Regions from separate parts of the Homo sapiens genome. Here regions 1 and 2 are each reported to be linked to region 3. Evidence: microRNA targets listed by miRTarBase, many of them from high-throughput screens and not tested one by one. Region 3 holds a microRNA gene; each other region holds the end of a gene's coding sequence.
The links. Region 3 holds the annotated microRNA hsa-miR-744-5p (UGCGGGGCUAGGGCUAACAGCA, at 4,503-4,524, opposite strand). A microRNA usually pairs through its seed, bases 2 to 8, with sites in the 3' UTR of a target mRNA and lowers its output. Matches are read on the target gene's strand: a 7mer-m8 pairs with bases 2 to 8, a 7mer-A1 pairs with bases 2 to 7 and ends in A, and an 8mer does both.

Region 1: miRTarBase lists INO80E as a target of hsa-miR-744-5p. Seed matches in the 3' UTR shown: 7mer-m8 at 775-781.
Region 2: the mRNA of LDLRAD3 is a reported target of hsa-miR-744-5p. Seed matches in the 3' UTR shown: 7mer-m8 at 1,969-1,975.

The regions. Positions count from the first base shown.
Region 1 is chr16:30,004,696-30,011,874 of GRCh38, forward strand. INO80E (INO80 complex subunit E) reads left to right here. Exons shown (of 7, transcript NM_173618.3): 7 at 526-1,096. The coding sequence ends at 747. DOC2A (double C2 domain alpha) reads right to left here and starts at 6,332. Exons shown (of 11, transcript NM_003586.3): 1 at 6,208-6,332; 2 at 5,266-5,540; 3 at 4,783-4,862; 4 at 4,507-4,581; 5 at 4,301-4,410; 6 at 2,478-2,604; 7 at 2,336-2,395; 8 at 2,090-2,253; 9 at 1,901-1,982; 10 at 1,718-1,814; 11 at 819-1,636. The coding sequence starts at 5,527. The coding sequence ends at 1,491. RefSeq lists a silencer at 6,239-6,298.
Region 2 is chr11:36,228,823-36,236,016 of GRCh38, forward strand. It overlaps LDLRAD3 (low density lipoprotein receptor class A domain containing 3), which reads left to right. Exons shown (of 6, transcript NM_174902.4): 6 at 338-3,314. The coding sequence ends at 575. Among named protein-coding and RNA genes, the nearest start is that of COMMD9, 57 kb to the right of the region's middle.
Region 3 is chr17:12,079,239-12,086,432 of GRCh38, reverse strand. It overlaps MIR744 (microRNA 744), which reads right to left and starts at 4,534; the gene lies at 4,437-4,534. It overlaps MAP2K4 (mitogen-activated protein kinase kinase 4), which reads right to left. Exons shown (of 11, transcript NM_003010.4): 3 at 4,903-5,077.

The DNA.
Region 1 (7,179 bases), not on the chromosome of region 3:
CGGGACCCCGAGGAGGGGCCCATCCAAGACATAATACAAGCTTCTTGGGGGCAGATAAGCCGCTGGGGCTCCTGGCTCAGGCAGCCTGCAATACCCTCCACCGAACCAGTGAGTGCCGCAGAAGAGGGAGAGGAGGAGTAGGGAGAGGAAGCTGGTGGCAGGTGGCACCTCCGGGGCCGGCAGGCAGGCAAGCACTCCAGGCCGACTCCGCCTCTGGCTTAACCCCTGTCTCAGGGCAGCCCAGGCGCCTCCCTGGAGAGGGCAGGTGCCCGGGCCTTTCCCTCCCGGTTTCCTGTGAGACACCCCCATCCCCTCATCTCACCTCTATCACCACCCCCAGGCACTTGCTGGTTTGAGGCTCTCGAGGGGCTGAGGGGGGCAGGCCCTGAGTGCAGCATGGGTTGGCCCAGCTGTGCCCAGGGCCTCTTCCCCCTCCCCAGAGCTGCCCTGGGGGGCAAAGCCTAGTCTCCTGAGGCCCCAGTGCCTCCCTGACTAGTCCCCCTGTGTTTCTTCCCCCTGCTGCAGATGGCGGTGGGACCCCCCGACTGCCCTGTGGGAGGGCCGCTGACCTTCCCTGGCCGGGGTTCTGGGGCTGGGGTCGGGACAACCCTGACCCCCCTCCCACCCCCTAAGATGCCCCCCCCCACGATCCTGAGCACGGTCCCTCGGCAGATGTTCAGCGATGCAGGTAGCGGGGACGATGCCTTGGATGGAGACGATGACCTGGTGATCGACATCCCGGAGTGACCGTGACATCACGCCATGCCCACCACGGCCCCGCCCGGCGCCCTCCCCGTGCCAGCACACACGAGTCCAGCTTCCTCGGAGGTGTTTATTGATGCCCAGCTGCCATGCTCCGGCCACTGACACAACCAGAAAAGGCGTAAACATGCACGGGTGTCCCCCAGGAGGGTGGCAGGGGCCCTGCCTTCAAACCCCGGCCCCCTCCAGGGGACAGTTATTTAAACGAGTGGCCGGGAGCATCTGCCACCTGCTGGGGAGGCAGAGACCCTGCAATGGCCACCTCTTTAAAAGGGCAGCTGTACAGGGCTAGGTTTTTTCAATGAAGTTTCTGTATTAAAGGAGTGGCTCTGGGTTTGTTTTTTGTCCTTTTTTTTTGAGACATTCTCCTCCTCTGAACCTCCCCTAATCCGACCTCCTCCCTGTTGGGGGAGAGGGACGGGGCAGCGTGGAGAGGCAGGAGTGAGGAGCGCGGGGGCCTGGGGCCGGGCTCTGAGCACTGCCCGGGTGTGCAGATGATGGGGGGTTTGCATATTTGCAGGGACTAGCGAGTCAGGCAGGAGGTTTGCATATGTGAATATAGAACTCCGCAGCCCCTCATGAGCAGACAGACCCGGGTCACGGAGACTCACAAAAATAGGTAGTGCAGGGTGGGGGCAGCCCACCCTGTGTAAACGTGCAACACACTCGTGCGAAGGTTGGGTACTGGACCCGGCTCGATGGGCCTGTGCCGGGACACTGCTGTCCACTCAGGCTGAGGACAGAGCCCCGGCCGCAGGGGGCAGCTCACTGGTCAGGGTGTGCCAGCGCTCCAGGGCTGCGTCCGGCTGCTGCAGGCAGTCACTCCAGTGCTTCCGAGCCTCGCCTCGGGCACCTGGCCCCAGGGACACGCCACCTGGGGAGCAGGTGGGCAGGGTCAGGGCCACCTCCCTGCCACTTGCCCGCCCTCAACACCCGCAGCCAGCTCCTCCCTCACCAATGAAGTCATTGGATTTGCCAATGTCATAGTCCCAGACGGTGACTTCCAGGGTCTTGGTGGCCAGAGTGGAGAGCTCTATCTCGTAGAAAAACTCCTAGGGACAAGGCCGGCCACCCGTTCGTGAGCCAGCTCCCCAGCCCCTCCCTGGCCTCCCTCCATGTCCCGTCCCCTCCTGGGTACCTCGTTAAATTCTGGGTTGAGAGTCTTCTTCTTCACACACGTCTTATGCTTGGATTTCTTGTCCACATCGGGCCTCAGGTACCTGGGGGTGGGGTGGAGGGAGACGAACTGAGGGGTGAGGGACAGGCCAGGCCCAACTCAGGCCAGGGCAGGCTCCCTGGGGAGGAGAGGGTCAGAGCAAGGGCTCACGTCTTGACGTAGGGGTCCGAGTAACCGTTGACGTCCATGGCAGCCAGATGGGCGCAGCGCAAGATGCCTACCAGCAGTCCCCGGCGCCGCGAGCTGTAGCTGAGACTCAGCAGGATGCGGCCACGCTCCTCCAGCAGCCCCTGCCCCTGCTCCGCCTGCTCCAACTGCGGGGCACAGACTCAGGGTCAGCCTGGGCCCCTGCAGCCTCCCACCCACATGCATCCCCATCCCCATGAGGTGCCTCACCTCCTTCAGATAACAGGAGATGCCCCTCAGCGCCGCTGACATGGAAGAGGGGGACGCCAGCTGAGGGGGCAAAGAGAAGGTTCTGGAAGCCTGGCCTCCCCAGGGCCCCCTCCCCTGGCGCCCCTGCAGCCCCCACACAGACCGGGACCTGGCGCTCGAGGCAGATGTTAAAATGCTTCTTCTGCGAAGGCTTGAGGCGGCGGAGGGGCACGCGGATCTCCCCAATAAACTCATTGTGACTCAGCTTGTCCTCATCACAGACGGCGATCCTGGTCGGGAACTGCAGTGTCAGGGCCCCTGGGGTACCTGAGCCCCGTTCCGGGGTGTAGGAAGGGCCTTGGACCAGCCCAGCTCTGCCCTAAACACTACGTCTCATCTGGAAGACAGGCTGGCACTTGAGAAGGACAAGCAGATTTGCCCATTCCTCTGTCCCTCCCTCTGCAGCCACCCGGCTGTCCCTGGTCCATCAGGACATGCTCAGCCATTGTGGGAAGCCCTCAGAAATCTTGGAGCACGCTGCTCACTGCCTCCATTCAGGGCCTGGGGGCAGGAGCCGAACACCACGGTGGATGTGGCCATAGACACAGGCCGTGAGAGCTAGAAGGGCCTTGGAGCCTTGGGCAGCCAGACCAGTACCCCACGCCTCCTCGGGAACCCCCGTCCTTTTCCTGCATGCAGCAGAGAGCCAGCCCCGCAGGGACTCACTAAGAAATGATTGCTTTCCAGCCACCTGTCCTCCTGCAGTCCCTGCCCTGCCTCCGCAGTGACCCACTACCAGGCTGGGCATCTGTGGCATGGAGGATGGGCAGATCCCAGCCCTGCCACTTCTGAGCCACCTGTGTGACCTTGGGCAAGTCACTTGATCACCCTATGCCTCAATTCCCATCTGTAAATGGAGATAGTCAAGGGAAAGAAAGAAATGTGAAAATGCTAAGCCTGGGCTGGGCCCTGGTGAGCGCTCATTTTTTGGTCTCATTCTGGTTTTGGCCTCTGGCCTCCCCTCCATTCCACCCGAATAGCTGAAACCAAGGTGGCCTCTCTGCTGCACAGCCCTGACCATCAGGGAAGGTCCCAGCTGCAAATCCAAGCACAAAGGCAGAGGTCTCTCCAGAGCCTGGGTTTCGCTGCCCGCCACCTGACTTGAGGGAGTACTCTCCCTACATCTCCATCTCCTAGGATGACGGAGCAAGTTCCCTGTCCCTGAAGACTTCACTCCTTAAGAGATTTTAGGGGAACTCAAGGCACGGAAGGGGCAGACCAAAGCTGCAGAGGTCTGGCTTAAGCCAAGGGCTCTGAGAAGGGGTCTCGGCAACCCAGGAACGTTTTTGGGAGGGGGCAGAGCTTGGACTGAACCTCAGATGAGCGGAATTTAGGCTGGCAGGAAGGAGCTTTCCAGATAGAAAACAACAGGAAAAGTTCAGGAGTTGTGGAACTGGCCAGTTGGAAGAAGGGAGTCCTCTGTTTGAGGGGCAGAAGATACTTTTGTTTTGTTTTTGAGATGGAGTCTCCATCACCCAGGCTGGAGTGCAGTGGTGCGATCTCGGCTCACTGCAACCTCTGCCTCCCGGGTTCAAGTGATCCTCCTGCCTCAGCCTCTCGAGTAGCTGGGATTTACAGGTACATGCCACCACGCCCGGCTAATTTTTGTATTTTTAGTAGAGACGGGGGTTTCACCAAGTTGGCCAGGCTGGTCTTGAACTCCTGACCTCAAGTGATCCGCCCACCTCGGCCTCCCAAAGTGCTGGGATTACAGGTGTGAGCCACCACACCTGGCAGGCAGGAGATATTGAGGGGCAGGAATGGCAGGGAAGAATTTTGGCCTGCTGCCAAAGGGGCTAGGGAGCCGCTGATGGTTCTTGAGCATCAGAGAGGTACGGGCTTAATGGGACATAGATCAACCAACCAGCGGTTACAATGTCAGCTGTCCCCGAGCTGCTGCTGGGTGGTGGGGAGGGGGGCCCTCACCTGAGCACCTTGTGCGTGATGTCGTCATCTGTGATCCCGCTGTAAGTCAGGTCCTCATTCCACACGGGATTCAGTGTGTTCCTCTGAGTCTTCGTTTTTAGCTTATTGGCCTGGGATGTGGGGATGAAAGGTTCTCAATACCTGTCCTCCAGCCCCACAGGCTGGAGTCATGGGCTGGGCCGGGCGGGGCGAGAGGAGGCTGTTACCTTACAGGCTCCAGGCAGCAAGTGCAGCTTGACGTAGGGGTCGGCGAGGCCATTGAAATCCATGGGCTTGAGGCCCTGGAGAGGAGGGCAGGGGAGAGGGCTAGAGGCTCCCGGCACCTCTCTCCATCCCTCTTGTAGAGCTGGACCCTGGAGGAGCCCAGAAGGAGGGGGCAAGGGCAGGACGAAGGAGCAGGCCTGGGAAGGGAAGGAGGAATGGGCCCCCTCTGGGGGCTGCACGCAAACCGGGCCCGGGCTTGGGTGGCAGGGAGTGCCCACCTTGGCCCTGAGGATGCTACAGTGCAGAGTGCAGGAGGCCCGGTCGTAGAGAAGGTCAAACTCCAGCGTGCCTAGGGCGGCTGGAGAGAGAGGAAAGGCAGCATGGGTCGGTATGGAGACAGGTGTGTGCGAGAGGCCAGCAGGTGGGCACTGGCTCTGTGTGTCTCTCTCTCTTGCCAGCCCGCGAGTGTGAGTGCAAGAGGCTGAGTGGGCCCATGCGTGTGTGCGTCTGGGTCCCTGGCTCGGCCGCAACTGGGGCTGTGTGGGTGGTGGAGTGTCTCAGCAGAAATACTGAATATTGAGCCTTGCTGAAGCTGTAATCTCCACGCTGACTGCAGCTGTGGTGGCCGTCCCTGCCACCCCCCCACTGCCCTCCTCCCCTACCTACATGCACAGCCAGCAGGGCCCATCCCCCTCTCCCCCCACCACGGCAAGCCTGGAGACCCCCACCAGCACATGGGGCCTCCAAGCCCCCAGACTCACTGGCATCATCCGAGTCATAGCTGTCCACCTCCGCACCATCCTCAGGCGTGGTGGCCCCAAGGAGGGCTGCAGGGGGGGCCAGAGCCAGGGGGACCAGATGGGCGGGGGCCTCCCCGCCGCCCCCGCCGCCCCCTTCAGGTCCTGGTCCCCGGGGGAAGTAGTCAGAGATCTGGCGGATGGGCCGGATGGGCCCGGGGCACACGTTGATGGCCATGTGCTCCTGGATGTTGATGGTCATGCGATCGCCCCTGCGGCCCCTCATGCAGCACCCCTGGCTAGGAGAGGGCGTGTGAGCCAGTGAGCCCATCATACCTAGCCATCCTGGCTGAGGGCCAGGCGACGGCCTCCTCGGTCTGTGGGGCCCTCACTGGCCTCCCTTCCTAGGTGTCGAGGGAGAGGGTGGTGTGTGCCAGCCGGTGGCAGGTGGGAGGCCTGGGCCCTGCAGACCCCAAGCTGACTCCACAGGGGCTGGGCTGCCAACCCACTCCTTGCAGAAGTCGAGGTTGCACCACCCCGTCCTCACCCACCCACTTCTAGGTTGTCCCTGTATCATCTTGCCAGCTCCTTCCTCTCCTCCGGGGCTCCCCTCTGCTCCTGAGCCTGCCTGTCCCCCAAGGGGCCCTGCAGGGCCCCGCCTCTGTTTCTCGGAGGCTCTGTCCTCCTCTGCACCAGGCGCTGGTCTAGTCAGGGTGTCACCCACCCCTCTAGGCTCCAACTGCCCACTGTCCCCTCATTCAGCCCCAGGACCTGTCTGCCTGCCTGGTTCCCCCGCTCGCTCACCACAGCCCACGGTGGAGACCCCAGCCTCAGATGCCACCTCTGGCTCCTCAGGGGAGCCAGAAATTGCAGCCGCAGGAGAGCCGAACACCCCCGTAGCGCACACAGGCTGGCACGCTTCCCCGCACCCTCACGCCCCCGGCCTGCCCAGCCCCCTGCACCTGCCTCTGCCTCCAACAGGTGCCCAGGCACTGGGGGGACGGCGGGCGCAGGCTGGGCGGCGGCGGCCGGCGAGGAGAGCGCGGAGTCGAGCTGTGCGAGCCGAGAGGGAGGGAGCGCCGAGAAAGTGCGGGGAGGAGGGGGTGAGCGAGGTGGAGGCGAGGATGCAGCCGGCGCGGCGGCGGGGGACGGGGAGGGGCGCTGGGGCTGGGGAGGGGGCGGGATCTCGGACTCCCACCCGGGGCCCGCTCGGGAGCGCACGCGAGCGCGCACACACACGTGTGCTCGCGCGCGCACACTCACGCAGGGGCACGCGGACCGGCACACACTCGTGTGCACACATCCAACCGGGCACCCCCGCGCGCACACGCCCGTGCCCACGTGTGCACGCTCACACCCTTGCACACACCCAGGCGCGCGCTGGCACACTTACCCGGAGAACTTCGCACACACACGCACTCGCAAACACGCGGGCTCCCTGCGCCACCAGGAAGCAGCCGCCAGAATCGCCGGGTGTTCCCCAACTACTCCTGGGAGACCTGGCCCCCCGCCCCCGCCCGCGCGCGCGGCCACGGCGCCTCCCTCCCTCCCGGGTCCCCAAGGCCGGACCACCGGCCTCGTTGTCATGGCGACGCCGGCTCATCTCCCCCCACCCCCGCGCGTCTTCACGCCCCTCCCCCGCAGGGAGCTGGGGCCTCCCTCCTCCCTTCCCCACGTCCGTAGGGACCCACAGGTTGACAGGAGCAGGGGGTCGCCTGCTGTCACCGGCCGGGGATCTCGGGGTCTCCCGAGCCAGGCTGGGGAGCCTCACGATCTGAGGGAGGAGGCAGAGGTCTGATGCTGCGGCTTCCCCCACGCCCCCTCCCTTTGGCCGTTCAGGCCTCTCTCCTTGTGGCCCAACCCAACTCCCAGGGGCCCATGTCCCCTTACCAGGGATGGTATCTCCTTTGGGAACCACCCTCCCCCCTGCCATCCCCA
Region 2 (7,194 bases), not on the chromosome of region 3:
GGCCACAGGGCTTTTGGCTGATGGAGCAGAGTGGCAATGCCAAACCACCCAGGTTGAGCCGAGGGACTTGGTGGGCGACCTCATTCTGGTTCTACCCAGAGGATGTGGTTTTGGCACCGTCCGGTCAACACCAACCAGCCAGAACACACTGGCCTTTTCTGTTCCGATGTGGTTCCTGGTCCTTGAATTAATTGTCTTTGTACTTGGAGGGAAAAATCTCATTTCGCACTGGAAACACTGTCTCAGAAATGGGCTGAAGTTGGCTTATCTTGGCCCTAATGTGTTCTCTTCTCTTCCTGTCTCCATTGCCCCTGCCCCCCTGCTGTCCCCATCACAGGCCTGCGTGGTATGACCTTCCTCCACCGCCCTACTCTTCTGACACGGAATCTCTGAACCAAGCCGACCTGCCCCCCTACCGCTCCCGGTCCGGGAGTGCCAACAGTGCCAGCTCCCAGGCAGCCAGCAGCCTCCTGAGCGTGGAAGACACCAGCCACAGCCCGGGGCAGCCTGGCCCCCAGGAGGGCACTGCTGAGCCCAGGGACTCTGAGCCCAGCCAGGGCACTGAAGAAGTATAAGTCCCAGTTATTCCAAAGTCCATATGGGTTAATCTGCTCTGACTTGTTGCCATTCTAACAATTTGTGCTCATGGGAAGCTCTTTAAGCACCTGTAAGGGTGTCTCAAGTTACAGTTTGGGATATTAACTATCTCTGCATTCCCCTCCTCCCCCAGACTTCAGAGATGTTTTTCTGGCGTCTCAGTTGACATGATCTGTTGTGCGTCTTTTCTGTCAGGTCACTCTTCCCTTGGGACCCGAGATCACACCCTCATTTTTCACATTATTCTGTTTCTGTTGGAGAGACAGCATATAAAACAGTATTGAAATAGGCTGGGAGAGAGCAATGTTTCTGTGCTATATTGGATGCTCAGAAGTGCAGGAGACGCTGGACCCAATTCTCTCTGCTGGGTAGTTACCTTATAGCATTTGGGGATTTGGGTTAGATGATCTAACCAGGAGGCCATCACTGGATGGTCACCCCCCCAAAAAAATTCCATTTGAGCATCAAAACCTGCTTTGCACAATCCTATTTGATGCCCCCAGTTCAGCAGAGTCAGTGGCCAAAGAAAACTTTGGACGTGAGTAACACCCTTCAGCAGTCGCAACGTTATTTTGGTTTTGTGAAGGACTCTGAAACCATCTACCCTGTATAAATTCTGGCTTTAGAAATTTGCCCAAGAATGCTCATTCTGAGAGCTTTCCTCAGCAGCATATATCATCAGCCTCATCCTAAAATAGGCAGGGAGCCCCTCCCATGAGTTTATCCAAGTTCTCAGCTCCTAAAATGCAGGCTGCCAAGACCCTACACCTGCCCTGGCTCTACAGCCACTTACCTGGTTTCTGGACTGTCACCCTCCCAGCTGACCTGCCCGTAGCCAAGGAATGAGGACCTAACTTGAGTTGGCCCAAAGTCTGACCTGGCTGTATGTCCCTGTGGCCCACACCCAGCCTGTCTTGCTCATTCATGCAGCCTCAACACTGGCCTCCAAAGTTCCCTTAACACTTGCAAAGTCCTTTTTACCTGTGCATTTGGACTTGAGGACACTGGTTTCTATCACAGGTGAGAGCCATGTTCAATACCTCCAGCAAGCTCTCCTGGCTCCCTGCACTGTGCACGCTCCTCTTCCCAAGGTCCCAATACCAGCACCTCTAGTTAGAGTTAGGGTCAGGGTCAGGCCTCTCCCAACATCCCAGTAGTTTCTCCTCTGAGACACATGGGCAAGAGACAATTTGGAGTCAAGATTTTCCATTTGGATCTATTTTAAATCTTTTAGAAATGCATTTGAAACAGTGTGTTTGTTTTTTCCCTTCTAGTTAAGGGACTATTTATATGTGTATAGGAAAGCTGTCTCTTTTTTTGTTTTTCCTTTAACAAGGTCCAAAGAAAGATGCAAAAGGAGATCACACCCTTGCCCCGCTGAGCCCCGTGATAACAAGTCACTCCAGACTAACCTGTGTGCCAGACATTTGTGCATTGTTGCACTTTGAGGTTATTATTTATCAAGTTCTTGAAGGAAGCAGAAAGAGGGACTCCTCTCTCCCTCCGTGTATAGTCTCTATGTTTGTGCTAGTTTTTCTTTTTTTTCTCTGTGTCCAGTCAGCCACAGGGCCCGCCTCCCTGCAGGAATAAGGGGTAAAACGTTAGGTGTTGTTTGGCAAGAAACCACACTGACTGATGAGGGGTAAAATGGAACCAGGTAGAGCCACTCCGGGCAGCTGTCACCCATTCAGAACTTCTTTCCGCAGCTGAAGAAATGTTCAGTAACCTGTTTGACGCTAATTAAAACAGAGCCTGCAGGAAGTGGGGCTAAAGTGGCATTCAGTGATCCTGTTCTGTAGACTTTTCTTTCTTTTTTTAACCAAATCCAAAGGATGTTACAGAAAAGCTAGCCACTGGTATTTTGTTTTGTTTAAAAAAAAAAAGAAAGAAAGAAAGAAAGAAAAACGGAAAGGAACCTAGCTGCCTGTATCTTTCATTTTTAAAATAGCACTTGAGTTATTTTCTGAGTAATCCAATAAAGAACTTTTGATGACAGCCAGAATGTGTTAGAACTCTGGCTGAACATTTCATCTCCTGTGAGTCAGAAGGGCTTTATTTCTCCCTTTGATGGGGCCCCTTCTTCTTTCTGGTGCTCTGGAAGTTGTTTAGAGGAAAGAATTCTAATTTTAATTAATTGCGCAGTGAGTTAATCTCACTCGCTTTTCTGCTTCCAGGCATCTTAGGAAAAACAAATGGTTTTAGTAGATAAGGGATGCCTACTAATGCTTTTTTAAAACAAACAGGGACATTTTTATTATAGATTTGATTTTTTTAATGAATGTTTTTAAAAATATATAAATAGGACACCAAAGCGGCAGGGTTTTTTTGGGGGGGAGGGGGTTTGTTTTCCAACTCAAGATGGCACATTAGTGGCCAGCAATATTTTTTAACTCATTCCAACCAGGAAGCTTTTTTATACATTGCCTAAATCTACGCCAACCAGAAAATAGTCTCATCTCTTTTTTTCTCAAATGAGATCCGTGTTTTATTTTAGCATTAAATTAGTTACACTGTGATGACTGGCCTATTACCTGACTCAGCTCCCTCTACCTTGAAATTGACATTTTTAAAAAATGCAACTAAGTGGTTAATAGTGTGTGACGCTCAAAGTTAATGTAAACTGGAAAGGTTGTGTGTCGTTGCTTTTTGTGTTTTGGTTAGGCTTGGTTTTGTTTTTTAATTTTTATACTTTCTAATAAATTTGCAGTTTCATTCTTTCTGTTTGTGCAAATGGTCCTTGACCCACTCATTTCCCTTATAGCAATATAAACAGTGGACAGTCACTTCTGTCATAGCTTTTGCAATGAATTTATGCCATAATAAAATGAGAAAAAGGAAGAATATGTTGGTGGGACCTCAAAATGTGATGGATGCTTCAGGATTCTGCAGCTGATATGATTGGAATACAGAGGCAAAGTTGTGGACACCAGTTAATGTAATGGGCCCTGGGAAATCATATTGGAAGATGGGTGTTTCTGCCTTTGCTACAGCATTGTTCAAGGGAAAAGGACAAGTAGCTGTGATAACTGTAACAGATTCTGACCACATATTCAGGAGCACACTATAGCTCTTGGATAGGTGGGCTAGTAATTAGTTTCAAAACACAAATGGCTCAGATTGTCCCCATCAATGATGGGAACATCTTTATGCTTTTTTAAGTCTAGTTTTGGAGCCACATGTTGGCCAATGCAGCAGGGACATCTGCCTGGGAAGGAAGTTAGGATGCCCCATAGGTCACCAGCACCACCATCATGAACAGGGACAGTAACTCCAGCCCTGGCCGAAATGAAATCCACATGGAAATCCAAATGCAAGACCCACAGTACCAAGATTTGGATCATGTATTGATCCCAGATTCCTCAAATGAAGACTGGGCTGTCAGGCATGTGTATCCCAAATATATGCTATGTCATGCCCTGCCCCAAGTGATGTAGAGTAGACTTTCCCAAGCCCCAAAGATTTGTCAAGTTACTCATTTCATCATCCCTCGAGGTACCTTATGAATACCTTTTTTTTTCTTTTTTTTGAGATGAAGTCTCGCTCTGTCGCCCAGGCTGGAGTGCAGTGGCGTGATCTCAGCTCACTGCAAGCTCCGCCTCCCGGGTTCACGCCATTCTTCTGCCTCAGCTTCCCGAGTAGCTGGGACTACAGGCACCCACCACCATGCCCGGCTAATTTTTTTTTTTTTTTTTTTTTTTTGCATTTTTAGTAGAGGCAGGATTTCACCGTGTTAGCCAGATGGTCTTGACCTCCTGACCTCGTGATCCGCCCACCTCGGCCTCCCAAAGTGCTGGGATTACAGGCGTGAGCTGCCACGCCCAGCCATGAATACCATTTTTATGGATGCCAAGATGAGCATTTTTTATGGATGCTAGTGCTTTGCAATGATTGTAAAATACTCAGCTAGAGCAGGGGTTGATAAACTTTCTCTAAAGGGCCAGAGAATAAATATTTTTGGCTTGTGGCCGTGTGGTTTCTGTAGCAACTGCAAAAGCAGCTATAGACAATACAAAATTGAATGGATGTGGCTGTGTTCCAAGAAAACTATTTACAAAAACAGGCTACTGGTGGGATTTGACCTGTGGGCTGTGGTTTGTCAGTAATCTAAAGGATCACTTCCACATTGGGTTCATAGATGTAAAGCTAAGGACACTGAAGAGAAGAAACAGTTGTGTTAATGGCTTGGAGTACTAGAACCCTTGAAATGACACCAATCTCAAAAAATTAAAAATAGGCCGGGTGTGGTGGCTCACGCCTGTAATCCCAGCACTTTGGGAGGCCAAGGTGGGCGGATCATGAGGCCAGGAGATTGAGACCTTCCTGGCTAACATGGTGAAACCCCATCTCTACTAAAAATACAAAAAAAAAGAAAAATTAGCCGGGCGTGGTGGTGGGCACCTGTAGTCCCAGCTACTTGGGAGGCTGAGGCAGGAGAATGGCATGAACCTGGGAGGCAGAGCTTGCAGTGAGCCAAGATCGAGCCACTGCACTCTAGCCTGGGTGACAGAGCGAGACTCCGTCTCAAAAAAGAAAAAAAATTAAAAATAGAAAAACTCATGAAGCAGACAATTCAAGGCCCCTATTAGTTCTCTTCCAAAATAAGAAGATACAGGATTAAGCTGAAGAGAGGCTTTCTTAATGAAATCCTAAATATTTGGGTTCAATATAGCAATCCTAGGAAAAAAAAAAAACAAAAAACTACTCTTACTGGGAGTTCTTCAAGGTCATGAACTCACACAGCAATCTGTCTTTTTTTTTTTTTTTTTGAGACAGAGTCTCACTCTGTTGCCCAGGCTGGAGTGCAGTGGCACAATCTCGGCTCACTGCAACCTCTGCCTCCCAGGTTCAAGTGATTCTCCTGCCTCAGCCTCCCAAGTAGCTGAGATAATAGGCGTGTACCACCACACCTAGCTAATTTTTTGTATTTTTAGTAGAGACGGGATTACACCGTGTTAGCCAGGACGGTCTCGATCTCCTGACCTCATGATCCACCCGCCTCAGCCTCCCAAAGTGCTGGGATTACAGGAATCTGTCTTTTAGAGAAGGTCCATGGGAGTGAGTGACGTGGTATGTCCATTTTCTACGTTGAGCTTGCAACCCACAGGCAAAGCAGTAGATTCTAAGAGTGAATTGAATGAGAAAGAGATTCAGGTGGCTGCAGTGGAAGTGTATGAGTGTACATAACTATGCACCCAGTGAGACCCTTAGGGAAAAGGTCAGTGAGAAAATATACTGACTCCCTTGACATCCTACAGCTAAACAAGTTCATAGGACATTAATTAGAACTCCTAGTTGTAAGTTATAGAAATCTGACTCATACATGATTAATTGCATTAAATTTTAGAAGATATATTGTCTAAAGCAACCAAGTCCAAGATTATGGAACTTTTGGGTTCAAGCAGACCTGGATCCAGCTGCTCAACAGCCTTCATTAGGAATTTGTTCCTCCCTTGCCAGTTTCTCAGCCCTGCTTGCTCATGGAAAAGAGAGTCCAGAAAACCCAGGTTCACAGTCTCAGGAGAGGCACTCTCTCCTAGCATCTATAGAAACCTTTAAACGGACTCACGATTGGTTGTTCTTGGTCATGTGACCACTACTATGAGTGGGTCTCAGTCCCTTGATTGACAGCCCCACCTGAATTACATGAAGTGGGAAAGAGAAAATTCCCATATGGAAAGAGTCTGGTAGTAGACCAAATACCAATATATCTGCTGTAAACCCCCACCAAAGAATGGGACTCACAACTGGCTGGTACAATTTGTAATATACATAAGAAAATAGCAGACAACTACAAGCTTCAGACAATGTAACCATGGGCATTATATGGTCTGAAAGAAACAGAGGCAACGTTGCAGTGAAAATTTCAGGAGACTCAACAGCCTTTCCTTAAACCTATGAGGCAAGGTTAGTTTCAAGTTGGGGTTGGATCATGTATACTTTTGTGAGACGGTCATGAATAAGCTGTGTAGGAGGAATTCTACCCTAAAGATACCCCAAATATCTCTTGGGCTCAGAACTGTCTCCCAACCACTGAAATGGGGCAATTATCCTGCCAAGAGTTTCCCCATCCTTCACAGTATTTTTAAGCTGATGGATCAGAAATATATTCCCATTCATCACCCTTATCAAGCTACCTAAAGACCTAGACTCAAGTATGCATGCAGTTAATGAGGCTTTCCATAGTTAACCATTTGTCTATACCTGAAAGTTAGGATGTGTCAATATCTAGAGAACCATCCACTAGAAATTTTGGAACAGCTTGTGTCACTGGAGCTGAGGGGCTGAGTTTCCATTATATTGAGAGCTTGAAGGTATAATCATGGGGAGCTGTGATGAAATATTGGAGGAAGCATGTTAATTTAAATATTACTGATGCCTCAGTTGGGCTGAGTTTATAGTCTGAGCAAGGATAATTCACTCTAAAGTTCTAATATCAGGCTGTATTTGACTTTACATGCTTTTCAAGGTCACCGTTGACGGTGAGTCATCCCAGTGAGCCAGCAGAGAAAAGGCATTCCAAGGAGCACACATGCATGGGCAGTGTTTACGGGCCAGACCTGGAAGCAACACACACCTTCACTCACATTTCATTGCACA
Region 3 (7,194 bases):
CAACCCCATCTACATAAGCAACCTGAGTTCAAAATCAAGGCTGCCTAGAGGCCAGCCCTGCCACACCCCTTGAATATGTCTCCTCCTGGAAATGCTCTACTTACACTTTTCATATGACCACCACAGCTTTTAAGCAATATTAGGAAGCATAAAAGAATACAGCTCAATCACAGATGCCTTAAGTAAGTCACATGATCTGACCGAACGACGGCCTAAGATATTAGACTACAGTCTCAATTCTAAACAAAAGAGCCATGACATCTGCATCCCATAGGTGATTTGGATAATCAAATATGATCACTGCGGCCCTTTGGAAGTGAATAAAATGGCCTAACAAAGCACTCTATGCCATCAAAAAGGAACTTTTCCAATTGAAGGCCATCCCAGTATCATTCTAGTGCTTTCAGAACATGCAAGACCAATGTTTAAACACTAAAATGAACCTCCTCAAATCATTATTCATCATCATAATCCCCACTGAAATAATTTGGTAATGGAACTTTTGACAGAAGTGGCATGGTCTCTCCAGTGGCAGGAAAACAAGCCAAGCCATACTTTTCTGATACCTGACTTCCCATACTCACCATACTATCTACACCAGGGAGGCCTACTCAACCAGCAGATTAAAGTTCCGTTCTACTCAGGGAACAGCTGAGCTGTGGGCTGCTGATACTGTCAGCAGAGGGCTCTAGTCCTTACTATCAAGCATCAGGATTAGGCTGGGTCTCAACTCCAGGTCAAGGACACTAAAGTCAAAATCCAAATAATCAAGGAGAGGCAGGATTGCAGGAATCAAAATCAGGTTAACAGGCCAGAATCAGCAAGACTCACATCAATGAAACAGTAGAGGTGAAAGGGTAGAGCTGAGGTTCAAAAGAACAAGACAAGTTAGGCAGATCTCCAACAGAAAGAAAATACTTGAAACTCTTGCATACCAGGTCACATTGCTAACTCAGTCCGGCCTATGCACCTACCCTCAAACAACAGATCTGTTTTTCCTGATTAACCCAGATAATTTCTCAAGCAGAAGACTGAAAAGTCATCATAATGATCCACAATGACAAATTTAACATGACACATTCTTATTCCCACCTACCTGCTCAATATTATTCAGTTCTTCAATGAGATGACAGCTTTATTACAGTATTAACCCTTCACACAACAATTCAGATTCCACTGCCTGCCATCATCTTTAGTGACAGGTACTTCAGTCCTTATACTCCCTCTCATTTTCATTCTTACTTTTTCACGTTTCTTTGGTTTTTCGCACATATTCTACAAACATGAAAAGGGCATGCATACCTTCAAGAAGTCAATCTGGACATGAGTCTGCTAGAAAACAACAGGGAAGCTGGTACTCTAGGCATGCAGGATTTTTTACACTGCAGGCAGAGTCAGGTGGAGAATATACTGTCAGGCATCAGAGGCTTACAGTCATTCTTCCCTCTGTCAGCCATCTGAGCTTGTAAGCCCATGGTCTAAGCTGTGACATTTCATTTACTCTCTTTTCTCCTGTGTCCCTAGATTTTCTGTGGCATCCTGATTCTGACTGATGATGCTAGGTGTTTCTCCCAGATCTGAATTACCCTAGCTCAGAAACCTAATCCTAACTGCCTCTTCAAACATTTGGTCTGAACTCTGGGCTTTACCCCGCTACATTTAACCAGAGAGCTGGTTAACATATAGATGAGGTACTCCTCATCTATATGTTAATTGATGTGTTGTATTGCCATCCTCTCCCATTTCCACCTGCCAGAGAGCTGAGCAGGCACCTACTTTATGTAGAGGACAGTGACTGTTCATGTCTAATGTTTTCATTCAGTGGTTACCCCACCACCGTGCAAAACAGGACACTAAATAAATGTTATTTGTAAAGGATACTGATCACAGTTAGAAGTAAATCCCTGGTAAGAGTTGAAGGTTGTTCTCCCTGAGCTTTAAGAAACCCCAGAGGCAACACTGGCTTTGCCCTAGGCAGCCCTAAGACTAGTCATTCAGGCACAAGTATACAAATTACTCCCACTCACAGGAGAGCAAGACCCTTTTCCCAAGCACGTGCAATTAAAACTAAAGGGTAAACCATGTTCACATCTTAGGTCCTAATGCAGAAACTCACCGATAGCTTGGGAGACTGTCCTCAAACCAAACATCAAAAAATTGTTTTAAGTATAACTCTTACAATGTTACCTCACTAAATCTGATTATATCAAAACTGATTTTTAGATTAAGTCTTTGGGGTAATTAACTCTGGTTACTAAGAAGTCACCTTTTTCAAATATTTCTTATATATGGCAAAATAAATTTGGGGAAGGAATTCCTCAGAACTAAAAATGAGGAATAATACAAAGAAAAAAATCAAGCTAATATCACAGTTCACTTTTCTACAGATATTGCAAGTAAATCTTAAGGATCATTTCCAGCTTAACATCTAATAATGCAATCCTTCTTTATTCTCAAAGTGTGTATTAAGATGTTAGCACAGAGTTACTTCAAGCGTGTTTCTCATTTCACCAACAGCAATGGAAAGCTCTCAGCTGTGTGAACCACCGTCTCATGGTTCCTTTAAAACCGTAAAGTCTCAAATCAAACACCTCCTTAATCATACATTGATTCTGTATATTTGTGCCTGTCAATCCAGTCAATGTACCTAAATGAGGAATGAATGAACTCTCTCAAGTGTGATGAAAGACTATTCTTCTTTGAAGAAACCAATAATAAATGCATTCTTTAATTCAGAGATGGCATACATCTGTCATCAATTGGTATCAAATTTTAATGCATATTAATGCAAAAACACTTATTCTTCCAGTATTAATGAAGTCATGGAATCCAAAGGTACTCCTCAACTATATGTTAATTGATGTGTTGTACTGCCATCCTCTCCCATCCCCAACTGCTATGCTTGTTCAAGAATTCGAGATGGTAAACGAAGCTAGGTAGTACCATGTGGTGGGTATACATGTGACAGCAACCAGTTTGTAGGTCTCATGACTGCCTTGAAAGTTCTTCAAGTACAGCTGGGATTTTTAATAGCATCCCAACTGGAACTGTCACAGTAGCCAGTAGCCACTGATAATGTAACATTACAAATGATGGACAACAATTTCCTATTTTCATTCTTGAATTCCTACAAAACTTGAGTAAGCATTATACAACCCAAAATATTATCAAATTAATCAGTGAGAAAAACTTTTAAGTGTCAAAAGGAAGTACCCTCTTTACCTTTATGACCTTTTTAACAATGGCTAAAATCAATCCATATTACTAAAATGTTTAATAATGTTCATCAACAAAGTTGAAGCACACATAACACAAACTGTAAAAAGCAGGAAATAATTTTTTAAAATTACTTTCCCTAGTACCTGAAAGAAAAGTTTACAACTTTAACTATATAGGAAACCTTTCCCTTAAGATCCAGCCAACTAAAACTGGATGTCACACACAGGTAGCACAAAGGGACAACACAACATTCATCCAGGAGTCTAAATAAAATGACTCTTTCCACTTACACTGCAGTGGCACAAAATAGGAATACAGAAATCATTTCACATTCCAATAAAACATTTTATTTTAACACATAATGCAGAGTTCTTCACCTGTGCATCTTTAGAGGTCTACGGTTTGTATACAAAATGTTGTGTATATACACCTGCCTATGAAAAGTCTATAGTTCTCACCACATTTTAAAAATACAGCCAAAAACAATGTTAGGAACCCATAGAGAGAATCATAAAAATTTTCCCTACCACTAATTTAACATTACTTTCATATGACCCAGCAAAAAGAAATGCTCAACAGTGAAGGATACTAAAATAGTTACAGTAAGGTTTGGCTCACAACAGACTTCTACACAGAAAGCATTTTATTTTAATTTAAATTCATTCTCAAATGTCAAGAAAAAACTAAGGACTCTTATCAACCACTCTGACAAACTCTCAAAATAGGACACTAATAGGAAGATGATTAGCTTGGACTATATGCAAATCCATTCTGAATTCTTGTAAACTGAAACATTTTTGTTCCCATAGGAATTTTAAGCTCAGAGAGGGTATGGCCACAGCTAGCTTTTTTTCCTTTGTTTTTGCAAGTTGTTCCCCCTGTTGCTGATTTTCCTGAAATATCTTACATACAGCAAAGATTTGTTAAACATCTAAACAAACAAATGAATAAATTACAATTACATGAAACTAGGAGTCAGATGGAAACCACCAGTTCTTTACAGGTACCAGCATAAGCTTGCCAGGTATTGTCTATGGATCAAATCTCTGTTTCTGGCCATTTTTTTTTTTTAATGAACATATTAAGTGGCACGACACAATAAGGACAAAATGTGACAACATTATCACAAGGTATGCATTTCAGTACAACTTTAAAACCAGGGAACAGGGCAGTACTGAGTAGAGATGAAATAAACAAACAGAAGCCGAGCCGGTCAGGACCGAGTAAGGTTGAGGTTAGTGGCAACAGCATGTGCGTGGTTTCCAGGAAACCTTCAGTAAGACTGCTGTTAGCCCTAGCCCCGCACCTTGCCCAACCCAGTGTGCTGCGTCTTCTTCCAGCTCCCGCCTGGCTCAGTGCAGCACTGCCCTGCTCCCAGGGGTGCAGCCGCCCAGCCTGAACTCACCTTGGCAGTAGAAGGGCCTGAAGTTTAAAACATGTTAATGCATCATGCCAAAAATGCAATCAACATGCACACTTCATACACTCATGTTTCCAAAGAGATAGAAAATGTGCCACCAATAAGAAACCTCTACACAGAACACCCTCAAAGGAGTTGGAGAAACAATTTTTTAAACACCCACATTTACCACAAAAGTAGGAACACAACAACAGTGGTATTACTGCACCATGAAATTTCACCTAATGGATTAAAGTACCAAAAATAATCATGGCATCACCTACTTTAACTGCCATTATTTGCCCACTTGGTTTGTGGACCATTTTGTTGACAGAACCATAAGCTCCTCGTCCAATTTCTCCAAGGTCTTTCAAGTCCTCTGCAGTGAAATCCCAGTGTTGTTCAGGGGAGATCTTCAGTTTTCCTGATGACTCAATGCTGTGTGTTCTCAGTCTCTCTCTGTTAAAATATTGGGAAGCAATTTTTCCACATTTTAAATAGGTTTTAACTTTTTTCTTTTAGTACTGATTAATGTGTGGGAAAAATGTTTTCTAAATTACTAAAATAGTCTGACCTCCAGGTTTTTGAAGTTTTTCATTTGTGTCATCCTGGTTTTTTACACACTGGATTAAGAATGATCTAGATTTAGGTAGTCAATAGACACAGCTTCAACGGGATTCATAAAAACAAATTGCCAAGAAGATTTTTAAAAATTCCCATTTATTGATTAAACTAATTCTGCAGATCAGTTTTCATTTCTAAATATAAGATCTTATTCAAACTTGGATGATGGTTTATCCAAACAGCATTATCAAGTGAGAATCCCAAGAGCTGCAAACCTTATTGCGAAAAAGTTCTTACCCTATCTTACCCAACATTAGTTATTCCAGTGCCTCAATCTTCAGTTAGTACAACTATTCCCAAGGTTTGCTGTACCTTACAATCACCTGGGGGAGATTTTAAAAATCTCAATGCCCAGGTATCGTCCCATAGCAATTACATCTGAATTATCCAGGGACAGGAGTCAGAAAACAGTATTTTTAAAGACCCCCAGATGATTCCAGTAATGTTTGGGAACTAGTGCCTTAGTATACTGTCCTGTTCTTGTTAATACCATCCTGAGGTGGGAGAACAGTTAACTGAATAGCTAGCTGGCTCTAAGAGGAAAATTGCCATGTGCTATTCAAAATTGAAATTTTCAGCCCTCGTTCGATAAAGCAATGGGATAAAAAATGAGTGGCTCGTAGACAAAAGAGCTCACTCATTACATATTTCCATTAAATAAAAAATCATCTCCAAAATCTCAACCTGGAGATCAAAGTATTAATAACTTCTAACCATGCTTTGTAAAAAAGTAAATCCAATGAAAAATGTAAAATCAATCTGTTTCTCTCTCTTGCTCTCTCTCACACACACACCAAACCCCAATGTGTAGGAACAAACTATCAACCATACACACAATGAAAGAATTCATTAAATATCAACTACATTTTTCAGTTTCATACTAAATGATCAGGATCTCTTTTAAACTCTGATCCTATGATGCAAACAAGCAAAGTTTATGTGCTTGGTCATTATTTTTCTTCTTCCAAAATTTAGGAAAGTTTTCTCCAATTAGTAGAATGGTTTTCTGTAGCAACCTTTAAGGTTCCCAAAAAACTTAGAACTTTAAAATCTACCCCCACTCTGAGAATAATCGTATGTACTAATATTAAGGTTCAAAGTTACACTTCAAAGATTCATACACTTGGTCTAAATAACAATTTACTAAATCAGTGTTCCAAATAACAGACTTTCAAATCATACTAAGTGATAAGCTTTCATTCATACAAGTGCTTTTCAGTTCAAAGTCCTTTCACCCATATTATTTGATACTCTAGCATCCAGAATCACAAGAAGCCCGGAAATCAGTGGCATAAGTGACCATTTAGGTGAAGATGAAGCTGGAACTGATCTTTTAAGATGGAAATCAGGTCTAGGCAAAAATAGGAAACTCTTCTTGGTAATCTTTTTCATGAAGTAGACAGATTAAGCCTGAAAAAAGTTCTAACATGAAGAAGTTCCATGTATAATGATTATTGTTCTATAATCTTTGGCAAGTAAATACTATCTCAATGGCAAAATCACTGGTGAAATATACAGCACCAATCTACCACTGAGGGAAGCTGAAAAAAAGTTAATTAAAATTACTTGTAAATCAGAAGCAAAATTTTTTACAGTGTTCGCTAATTGAAGGGCTGTGGCAGACAGGCTCCAGGAAGTCCTCATGATCCCCACCTTCTTAGTGTTCGTATTTTTGTGTAGGCATATTTCTTTGGGTGTGAGTGGGACCTGTGACTTACCTCTAACCAAGAGAATATGGTAAAGATGATATAATATGACTCTCATGACTACATTGCTATATAATACTTATGCTAGCATTCTTGAGAACTGAAATGAAAGATATTTCATTACTATATAGAAATTACAGAATGAAAACAGTTACAATATTATGTCTTATTTTAAAGATCAAATTTTAGTATTATGGAATATCTCTACTAATAGTTTAGCTCACTGTAGTTTCTTTTTAAAACTGA